2 separate regions of the Homo sapiens genome follow, and region 2 is linked to region 1. The links come from fine-mapping of genetic effects on gene expression. A gene starts in region 1. The other region holds a variant in brackets. All regions are shown on one strand. Distances are between the middles of the regions.

What was found. PIP is the estimated chance that this variant, and not a neighbour inherited with it, causes the effect.
Region 2: its variant is the best candidate, but not a certain one, in a credible set for the expression of TGM1 in substantia nigra (GTEx, PIP 0.81).

What each region holds. Positions count from the first base shown.
Region 1 is chr14:24,260,484-24,265,857 of GRCh38, reverse strand. It overlaps TGM1 (transglutaminase 1), which reads left to right and starts at 2,681. Exons shown (of 15, transcript NM_000359.3): 1 at 2,681-2,769; 2 at 3,504-3,824; 3 at 3,975-4,163; 4 at 5,160-5,374. The coding sequence starts at 3,506. RABGGTA (Rab geranylgeranyltransferase subunit alpha) reads left to right here. Exons shown (of 17, transcript NM_182836.3): 17 at 95-320. The coding sequence ends at 243. RefSeq lists an enhancer at 2,198-2,206 and promoters at 176-2,693, 1,076-2,742, 3,303-3,498, 1,753-3,506, 506-3,506.
Region 2 is chr14:23,834,046-23,839,419 of GRCh38, reverse strand. LINC00596 (long intergenic non-protein coding RNA 596) reads left to right here. Exons shown (of 4, transcript XR_429343.4): 4 at 20-697. Among named protein-coding and RNA genes, the nearest start is that of LINC00596, 66 kb to the left of the region's middle. The variant T/C (reference allele first, on the strand shown) is at 3,119.

The sequences.
Region 1 (5,374 bases):
GACTTCCAGGCAGCAGTCCCCAGCTCTTGAGGGTACACAGGAGCAAATAAATTGGGAGGAACCTGCCAAGCTTTCCTTGACTCTCCTGAACAAGGCCTCCAGCAGCCTGCAGTGCTCCAGCCTCTTGCCTCCTGCCCCAGGCTGGTCCTCCTCAACCTGCAGGGTAACCCGCTGTGCCAAGCGGTGGGCATCTTGGAGCAACTGGCTGAACTGCTGCCTTCAGTTAGCAGCGTCCTCACCTAAGAGGCCCTGCCCCCTACCCTTGCCCTTTAACTTATTGGGACTGAATAAAGAATGGAGAGGCCCTCTCAGGCTACCAAGCTGTTGTCGCTGCTATCACTACACCACCACCTTCATCACTTTTATTTTTTGAAAAGAAAGGGAAGAGACATGGGGTGTTGCCAGCTCCTTCTTTCTGCGCCATCCTATTGTTTCCTCTCAGAGAGAGCCAAGGCTTCAGTGTTTGGGGCAGAATTCAGGGTGAAGGCTGAGCTTTTGTTTACCTTCTGGTTTGGGGTGGGGGCTGGGACTGGGTCTAGATTCCAAGCAGGAATAGGGCTTGGGCTCAGGTTCTGGCTCTGGTAAGCTACAGAGCAGCTGTGAGTTTCTCCAGCTGGAAGCATCATACAATTTTTTCCCATGACCCCTGCACCTTCCACATGTTCCCCCTGCCCTGGCCCCCATTCACCATAGCTGGGGAGGCTCAAGGGCTCCACGTTCCCAGGAATGGGCCAGGGTGTCCTTGCTCCGTCCTGCCTGAACAACACTATCGGTCCCCATGAGTAGCATTCTACGGTTGAAGTACCTTTGAGAATACTTGATACCATTTGATCCTCACAGAGTCTCAGGGATGAGATTTTTAGGCCCAGTGTACTGATGAGGAAACTGCTGTTGAGACTTGCCCAAGGTTCTTGGCCGGAGCGCTTCAGCACTGAAACCAAAGTTGTCTCTACCCTTGGTCTAGGATTCTAGACTCATGTTCTTGCTTCTGTATTGCTAAGGAATGGTTGGGCAGCGGCCTGGCCTCAGCTCCTTGAGGTCCTGAGCTGAGTGTCTGCTCCCATGGTGTCCCCCCACACATACCATGTACACACCTTGTCCTGACCTAGAGAGTCCTGAGTGGTGGTGGGGGGAGGGGACTGGCTCAGGGGTTAGGGCACTGACTCAAACCTGGCTGGGTGGGGAGAGAAAGATTGATTAAAGCTAGGGAGAGAGTGTGACAAAGGCATCCTACTGGTTCTCTGGGATCTGCCTGGGCCCACATGTGCTCACACACGTCCGGACAGCCAGGGCCCTGCCCCTTCCCGTATCTGCAGTGATGCACAAATCCGCAGCCCCTGCACAAAGCCCTCTGGCTGACCTGCCTGGAAGTTTATATCCACTGGTGTGTCTACTGAGGGTGTTGGAGGTGGGGCACCTGCCCCCACCCCCGGGCAGGTTCTGGTGCTTGGAGCTGGACAAGAAAAGGCAGTGTGGGTGTGGAGGGCTCCCTGCCAGTTCCTGGGGCCTCTCTGTCCCCACTCCCCACGGCACCTCCCTGCCTGATGCATCACCAAACAGCCCCTCCTGGATTCTGTTTCCTTGTGTCTTCTTGTCGGCCTGTTTTTACTGTCTTCTGCTAGGCGGCCCATGGGCAGAGCTGGGACACTAGTGGGAAGGAAGGAAAGAAGGAAGAAGGCCCTGGCTGACGGGCCTGAGGACAAGACCCAAGGAGAGCCTCCCTGAAGATGCCTAGCCTCCTCCTCTCTACCTTGGGATCGCCTTGGTGCCATCCTCAGTGTTTCCCCAGTGACGGGGTGGAGTAAGGATGCACACAGCACAGGTGCCTGAGCCGGTTGGTCTGGATTCCCAGGAAGAATTCCAGGTTGGAGAAAAGGGAATCCTCTAGTCCAACTGAGCAGAGACTCCTCTCAGTGAGAGAAAGGTACTCTGTACCCCTGGAAGGGGGACTCAGTTCCCACCCAAGCCTGAGTGGAAAGGCCTAAACATCCCCTAACCCCCGAGGCTACAGCGGGGGTGGGGGACGTGAAATGAGATTGCTCCTACTCTGATCTCCCTAATCCCAAACTTGAGGGCAGCTCACTCATGCCTGGGGCTGTAGAGCAGCTGAGAAAGAAGGGACAGACTTGGGGGTGGAGGGAGTCAGAATATCTGGTAGAGCCAGCAGGTCAGGGGTTAGCTGGTGGAGCCAGTCTGAGGGCCTGGCTGCTGATGTCACCAGTCTGCAACCTGGGATCCCAGGACCTCCCTGGGCAGGATGAGTTCCAGGACCAGGCCCCTGGGCCAATTTCATAGGGCTGAGCCTGGCTTGGGCTGCACAGAACTCGGCAGCAGGAGCCTGTGAGAGCAGAGGTAGGCAGCCTAAGCTTGGGACCAGAAGGTCGGCCAGACAGGGCTGTGGGTGGAAGGGCCTGCCTGCCCCACTGCCCTTGCAGCTTCTTCATCCGGGAGAAGGGGCTCCTCACATGCCCAGTCTGGTAGGAATCAGCCTGGTGCCAGGGGCCATCACAGCGGTGGCTCCCACCAAAGCCCAGCCTAAGCCCCCAGACCTCACCCCTGCTCCCTCCCTAGCATCTTCTCCCCATTTCCCGCCCAGAGGCCTGGCCTCTTCTCTCCGCCCCCTACAGCAGTTTGGCCCCTCCCTCCCACATAAGTCACTTACCAGGTCTGTCCCTGCGGCATCCAGTCTGTGGGTCCTGTCCCATCCATCCTGACCTGTTCCATCTCAGCCCCAGGACTCAGTACTGCGGTTGCCAACACTGCTGCCAGGTGAGGGGCTCCCACGGGTACTGTGGTGCCGAGTCCAGGCGGCCCACACTATCAGAGGCCGTGCCTGGATCCAGCAAGGTGGGGTGTGGGCCAGCTGTGTACCTGTCAGCCCCAGCTAGGCTGTTCCCAACACCAAGACTCTGCTTTCCCTGTGCACAGGCTCCGGGCACCTGCCATGCCCTACCCCTCCTGGCAGCCCCAAGTGGGGTCTTCCCTGACTTGGGAATGCCAAGGACCACAGGCCCCGGGGTCACTTGTCTGTCTTGTGAGGAACCTTGAGTTGGGGGATTTCTGCTAAGAAATGAGTTCTAGAAGCTGTCAGTGTTGTGCACCTCTAGACTGCAGAGCTAGCAGGTGGACGGACCAGGCCCAGGGATGCTGGAGCACTCTGATGTGTGTGCAGCTGGGTCTTGAGGCTGGGACAAGTGTCCATGCAGGGAACTATGTGGATTTCCTGGGATGGATCGTTGAGTGGGTTTCTTCATTGGGCAGTTTTTCGGATGTTGTTTGGTGGGGGTGAGGGGAAGGCTTTTCTCTGCAGCATGAGAAGCTTCTCTGGGTGAGTCTGAATGGTCTTCGCGGAAGGTCTCTGGATGTGTCTGGAGAATCTCTGGGCCAAGGTGGGATTGTTTCGGTCATCGGGTGGGACTGAATCAGCTGTCTGGATGGAGGGTTTCTGGGTCAACTGGCTGGGACTACCTGGGTTAAGGAGCCACCCTGCCTCTTCCTAACAGGCATGATGGATGGGCCACGTTCCGATGTGGGCCGTTGGGGTGGCAACCCCTTGCAGCCCCCTACCACGCCATCTCCAGAGCCAGAGCCAGAGCCAGACGGACGCTCTCGCAGAGGAGGAGGCCGTTCCTTCTGGGCTCGCTGCTGTGGCTGCTGTTCATGCCGAAATGCGGCAGATGACGACTGGGGACCTGAACCCTCTGACTCCAGGGGTCGAGGGTCCAGCTCTGGCACTCGAAGACCTGGCTCCCGGGGCTCAGACTCCCGCCGGCCTGTATCCCGGGGCAGCGGTGTCAATGCAGCTGGAGATGGCACCATCCGAGGTGAGGCCGGTCTGTCCTCCTCAGCTGAGAGCTAAAAGGCTTTAATGGGACCAGAGACTCAGCCTGGCATTTCTGGGGGGGATAGGAAGCTAATGATAAGGGCCTGGGCTCCTCATGGGGCTTCACTGACACGGAGCTGTGTCCTTGCAGAGGGCATGCTAGTAGTGAACGGTGTGGACTTGCTGAGCTCGCGCTCGGACCAGAACCGCCGAGAGCACCACACAGACGAGTATGAGTACGACGAGCTGATAGTGCGCCGCGGGCAGCCTTTCCATATGCTCCTCCTCCTGTCCCGGACCTATGAATCCTCTGATCGCATCACCCTTGAGTTACTCATCGGTCAGTGGGGCTTGGATTGGGACGGGTGAAGGCCCTATGTTTGGTGGGGAGAGGCTGGCATTAGGGTCAGAGAGGTCTTTAGGCTCCTCCCTGCCCCACTCCTCACCTCTGCCAGATAAGGCAGGTGCAAGTGTGTGGGTGTGCCCCTGGGGTTGTGTCTCAGAGAGGGTCTTGGTGTTGCAGTTTTTCCCAAGCCCATCCTCCTCAAGCCTCCTGGGGCATCGGTCTCAGAGTACTCCTCTTCAGGGCCTGCCTCGGTGCCTCCTTCGGCATTGCTGCTCTGTCCTTTGTGCATCTGTTCTCATTCCCCAGGATGTGGCTGGTTCTCTCTTCTATCTCTCTCTCTCCCTCTTGCCTTCCATGTCCCCCATCTCTGCCAATTCTGTCTCTCTCTGTCTCTGTCCCTCTGTCCCCATGACCCAAGGCAGGTGCCTCCCTTACCGCGTTGCTTGGTGTAGCTTGACTTCTCAGGCTGGTGATTATGCTGCTGCCTGGGGCAGGTGACTCCTTTTACCCTTTGATTAGGGCCTAACCTTGCCCACCTCATCCTTTAATTTCCCAGGAACCCCTACCACCTCCACCAGGGATGCCCTGGGCTCTGGAAGCTGCAGCCCCAGGAAGCAGGCAGGGTTGGCCTTCAGGATCAGGACTGCCCTTTCATACGGGGCAGGTGGATCTGCCCCTCCAGCCCAGGCACTGTGATAGTCAGGCAGGCAGAAGGTGACAGGAGCCCTCGTCTCTCCTCCCCACCTCAGAGTTCAGTGTCAGGGGAACAGGTTTGGGATGTTGGACTGCGGCACTGCCCTAACATGTGGGCAAGCATTGGGTGGAGACAGAGCTGCTCTAAGGGAGACTGTCAGAGAATAAGGTGATGGCCCAACGTAGGGACATACACAGTGGCTCATACACATTGTGGGTGGGGCCGGGAGAAGTCCCAGGCTCCATCCCCTCTCCTCAGGGAGGCCTTGCCAGCTAATTGCTGATTTCCTACTCTAGGAAACAACCCCGAGGTGGGCAAGGGCACGCACGTGATCATCCCAGTGGGCAAGGGGGGCAGTGGAGGCTGGAAAGCCCAGGTGGTCAAGGCCAGTGGGCAGAATCTGAACCTGCGGGTCCACACTTCCCCCAACGCCATCATCGGCAAGTTTCAGTTCACAGTCCGCACACAATCAGACGCTGGGGAGTTCCAGTTGCCCTTTGACCCCCGCAAT
Region 2 (5,374 bases), 430 kb after region 1:
TCCTCCTTTTTCACACAAGCTTATGGCCAAGTAAAGGATCCTGACTCTAGCTCTGGATACAGTATTTGGCTCATTCTGGGAACCTGACTTTGATAAGAAGATGAAGAACTTTGTGAATTGAAGTAAATCACGTGAGAATCACTGACCTGACCTAAGAAAAGTTTGGATTTCTGTGAAACAGTATTCTACCACTCCTAAAGAAATATGCATTTGGCTGCAGTTTTCCACTTTTCACATAGGGGAGTGAGCTTTCTCTTGTTTGAACAACCATCAAGAACTGGGATATTATCTCATTTCAGGTGAAAATAGTATTCATGTATGCTTATCACAAATTCAGTATTCAGGGTTCAGTATTTGCACAGAGGAAAAGTAAGCATAAGTTTTAGATGAAAGACATAAATTTTATTATTTATTTTTAACTTCAAAAATATTATTTTCTATGCACATATGGACCTATAAAAGAGATCAAGAAATTAATACATGTATATAATACATTTATAACTGCTAGACCTTTATTTGAGTCTGATCATGTTACTCAGTGAGAAACTTTTTTTTCTAAGTCTTAATAAGATGTCTTACACTATATTTTTATTTATATTGCTTTGGCTTGTGATTAATTGCTTTGCTATTCAATACTGGCAAAATTTTTTATACAGTAAATAACATTAATTAAAATAAATTTATAACTTATTTAAATAAATCTATCAAGATGACCTTTCACAAATTCAATTCCTTTTGGTTTAAGACAGTTATTTAAGGGAAATGTATTATGTTTGTCTTAAGAATTTTTTAAATTTATGAAAAAGAAGGAAAGATTAATTTCAAGAAAGGTTATCCAGTCTTGGAGCTACCTGATTATATTCAAGACAGATTGGCTTAAAAAATTTGTTAGCTTTAAATAGCAGAAATAACTACTCTTGCATGTATCATATACCATGTCCCATACCTCATCAGCATGTCTTATACTATAAATAAAACTTTGAAGTCTATTTGGATAAGATTTTTTGAAAATCAGGTAGGAATTTATTAAAAGGAAAAACTGAGATCTTCTCACCTACATTACTGACTTGCAGTAGAGGGGTTATTCTTTGTGGGGTGGAGGGTAGGGGGACCACACAAAAAGAGCAGGCTGATAAATTGGCTACAGTAAATAGATCCATAGGAAAATATCAGTCCTTATAAAAAATTATTTTGGTCATCTTCCCTGGTCAGAACTTGGACAGAGCTCGTGAAACCTTTGTAATTTCCCAAGTGATAAAGGTGCTAGGAGCATATTTTGTTCTAATGAGGTGACTCTTGCTGGGTTCCTTAATGAAGCCTGGTCACCAGGAAGATCAAGGCATGGTTAGAGACTTGGAACTCTCTCTCATCCCCCATCAACAGGTAGGGGAGAGGAACTAGAGATTGAGTTTATAATTGATCATGCTTATGTGACAAAGCCCCCCCAAAAAATCTCTAAAAGACAGGATTCAGAGAGCATCCAGGTTGGTGAACACATCCTATGTGCTAGGAGGGGGTTGCATTCCAACTCCATGGGGACAGAAATTCTGTATTCAGGACCCCTCCAGAGCTCTCTCTATATATCTCTTCATCTGGCTGTTTATCTGTGTCCTTTATAATATCCTTAATAATAAACTGGTAAACATCTTCCCCTGAGTTCTGTGAGCCATCATAGCAAATCATCAAAACTGAGGAGGGAGTCGTGAGAACCCTCCATTTGTAGCCAAGGCTGATAGAAGTGTGGGTAACCTGGGGATTCGCTACTTGAAATTGGCATCTGAAGTGGGGGCAGTCTTGTGGGACTGAGCCCTTAACCTGTGGCATCTGCACCAACTCCAGGTAGTTGGTGTCACGGTTGAATTATAGGATGCCCAGTTGGTGTCCAGAGAGTAGGAGAATTGGTTGGTATCAGGAAAACTCCCACACATTTGGTCACAGAAGTGCTGAAAGTGTTGCATGTCATAGAGAAATGCTTTCCTTTCCTCTTTACAGTAAACTGGGGAGAGAACAGAAGCAAAAAAGTTGCTTCTTTAAAAGCCATGGAAAGGAAAGGAATTTTAAGAAAAATAAAACTCTTAAATATAGCAAATGGGATGACAGCTGCTGTATACAAAATGACAAAATTAACAAAGTAATATACCCATTATGCGTACAGCAATTTGCAGTTATCAAAAAATTTTCATATATAATGCATGTGTGTGCATATATATGTATAGACTATGTAGACTATATAAATGTGTATGTGTATATAAATTCTCTTCCTGAAGATAGAATCAACTGGTTCTTTCCTGGGGCAAGAACACTGAGTTATAGCTTCAAGACCTGAGTCATATTACTATTTGCTCTGAATTTAAAAGTTAAAAAGTCAAACAAATTTGCAAGACTAGGTTCTAATGACAATTACTTTGTCAAGGATGCAAACCACTTTTCATTTCAAAAGCATATGCGGACTTAAAGCTTGTGAAAACCAGATAAAGGTAGGCATACTTTGGAAAGAAACTGCCTGGTATAGAGGGATTAATTGTTTCCACACATCTAAGCCTGACTCCAAAACTGGCAATGGAAGACTGTATCTTGCTAACAAGTCTTAGACATGTAGTACTTGAAAAAGAACAGGTAAGGCCAGGCGCAGTGGCTCATGCCTGTAATCCCAGCACTTTGGGAGGCCGAGGCAGGCGGATCACGAGGTCAAGAGATCCAGACAATTCTGGCCAACATGGTGAAACCCTGTCTCTACTAAAAGTACAAAACTTAGCTGGGCGTGGTGGCACTCGCCTGTAGTCCCAGTTACTTGGGAGGCTGAGGCAGGAGAATTGCTTGAACCTAGGAGGCGGAGGTTGCTTTGAGCCAAGATCGCGCTACTGTGCTCCTACCTGGCGACAGAGCGAGACTCCGTCTCAAAAAAAAAAAAAAAAAAAAAAAAAAAAAGAAAGAACAGGTATATTCTATACCAAGGTGTTTGGAATGGAGACCAGGAAAATGATAGGAACGAAAATATGTTCAGAGCAACCCAGGCTGAGACTGGGGAGGCACACTTGAAGACATGACGGGGCAAGAGGTTTCGTAGTTCACTTGGTTTCCCACCCATAGCTGCATTTAGACACTCTACTAACTTCAA[T/C]AGGCATGTTGGGCCAGGATGCAAAATTATTTGCCTTTTAGTTCACAATATTTTATCCGTTTCATAACACATATGGCTTAGAAGTTGAGAGTATGCGGCTTGAAGACAAATCTCAGTGCTAAGGAATAATAATTATAATAGGCCGGGCAGGTTATTTAACTTCTCTCTCTCTGATTGCTTCCTTACGTTTCAAGGGGGGATAGCACCACCCACCTCAGTGGGTTTGCATAAAGATAAAAACACCAAATGTGCCTTAGTTTGGTACTTAGAACATACTACAAAACACGGACCCATTAGTAATAAAAACAGCTGCTCTAGAACTCTCCTTAGGAGGAAAGAGCCGGGTTTTAACAGAGAACAAACATAAGCTGTGTTGCACAACCCCTTTCTCCAGCTGAATCTTCACTGTGTCTCCCTGGGTCCCAACACACAATCCTCGTGACCCCATAGGAGGCTCAAGGCATCTACAGAAGGCACATGTTAAGACAGAGATGTGATTATTTTTTAAGAGACTAAGAAACTCCAAATAATGAATGGCTATCTATCATGTGCAATGACTCTGGAGAAATATAAAATACGAACTCTGCCCTTAAGATATTGTCAGCCTGGTGGCAGTGGGAAGAGGTGCAGGGGAAACATTGAAATTTGGTTTGGAGAGACAGCCATGTAAAACCAAGTAGATGTATTTATAAGGCTTCCCTGAAGAAGGGATGCCTTTGCTGAGTCTGAGGGAAGAGTAGAACAATCCAGCGAATGAGAAGATGCAAGTATGAAATGCAAGAACATTGTTATGTTTATAGTAGAAGGAGCTTGTGAAGGCAAAGGGAAAAGAATCAGGAACAAATCAACAAAATCCCAGTGTGGGAAGGCAAGAAATGTACATTTTATCATCAAAGCCAATGGAAAGCCATGGTTGAATCTCCACAATGAGATGAACTTGATCAGCTTTTCACCTTGGAAAGGTTCCTCCAGCTTGGTTTCGAAGTAAGAGCAAAACAGAAGCTACAGCTACACTTCAGGCAAGACAGATGACCACTCCAACAAAATGCAGTGACTGAGGAATCAGGAGAAGATCAACTAAAAGCTAGCAGATATCATATTAGCAGGCCTTGGTGACAATTGGGTATGGAAGAAGTGAGAAGGATCTTGGCTGACTGCGGTTTCTGGCTTAGACAACTGAATGGATAGTGGGCCCATATGTTAACATAGAAAATGCAAGGAAAGGACCAGAGTTCCTGGGAGCTGATGTGCACAGTCCATAGTGACTCATAGAGGTCCACGTGCACTGTGGCAGTAAGCAAAGCTGTGAAAGACGCCCTGCGTGATGGACAGAATGTGATTTGGTGTCTTTCAGAAGGAGTCTCGGTCCTGGTTTGGGGCTTTGATGACTCAACAAAGTGAAGTCTGGAAAGAGGGCAGGGAGACCTCCTGGTGTGTCCTAGGGGGAGGAGAAAGGAAAGGATGCCCTGACTTAGAGAGGAGAGAGAACAGCAGCTGCCCAGACACCCCAGGACCTGCCCAATCTTGAGCTACTCCTGTTGCTGGGATTCCTTCTGTGCCCTAGACAAAGCAACTGGGACTCACCATAAAGGTAAGAAGATTGTATGTTGAATATTTTATATAAATAGATCTATAGAGATACAGAGATATGAATAGATATTCTTCCAAAAATACCATAGGCCTGAGACAGGTGTCCCATCCCTTGGGCAAGAGAATGTTATAGAACAGTATATATGCAAAGACTTTCCAAGATGTAAGTAGCCATATATATATATTTTTAATCAATTTCTTCATTAGTATGAAAGATTCAGAAAGGCAAATTTATAAAATTTATAGAGACAAAATAGATAAAGGTTGTCTGGGCCTGGGGCTAGGAAGAGGGATCAACTGTAAAGGGCATGAGGGGTTTTACTGGAGCCATGAAAGTGTTCTACAACTCACCGAATGTGATGGTTGCACAACTTGGTAAAGTTACAAAAATCATTGAATTGCAGACTTAAATTTTATGATATGTAAAATGTATGTCAATAAAATTATTTCTTAAAAAAGAAATAAATTTTCAGATCTTCAACTTCCATGTGTGGTCTTTCCTAAATATGATTTGCCTGAGAAAGCACCTGTTCTTGCTTATGTAAAATTCACTTTGCTAGCTCCCCTTTTAGTTGGCCTACTCAAAAAGGAAGAGAGTCATATTCTTTTCCTATCCTTATTTTTACTATGGTAAAAATGGAGTGTTGAGTGAAGAAACCTTCAAGC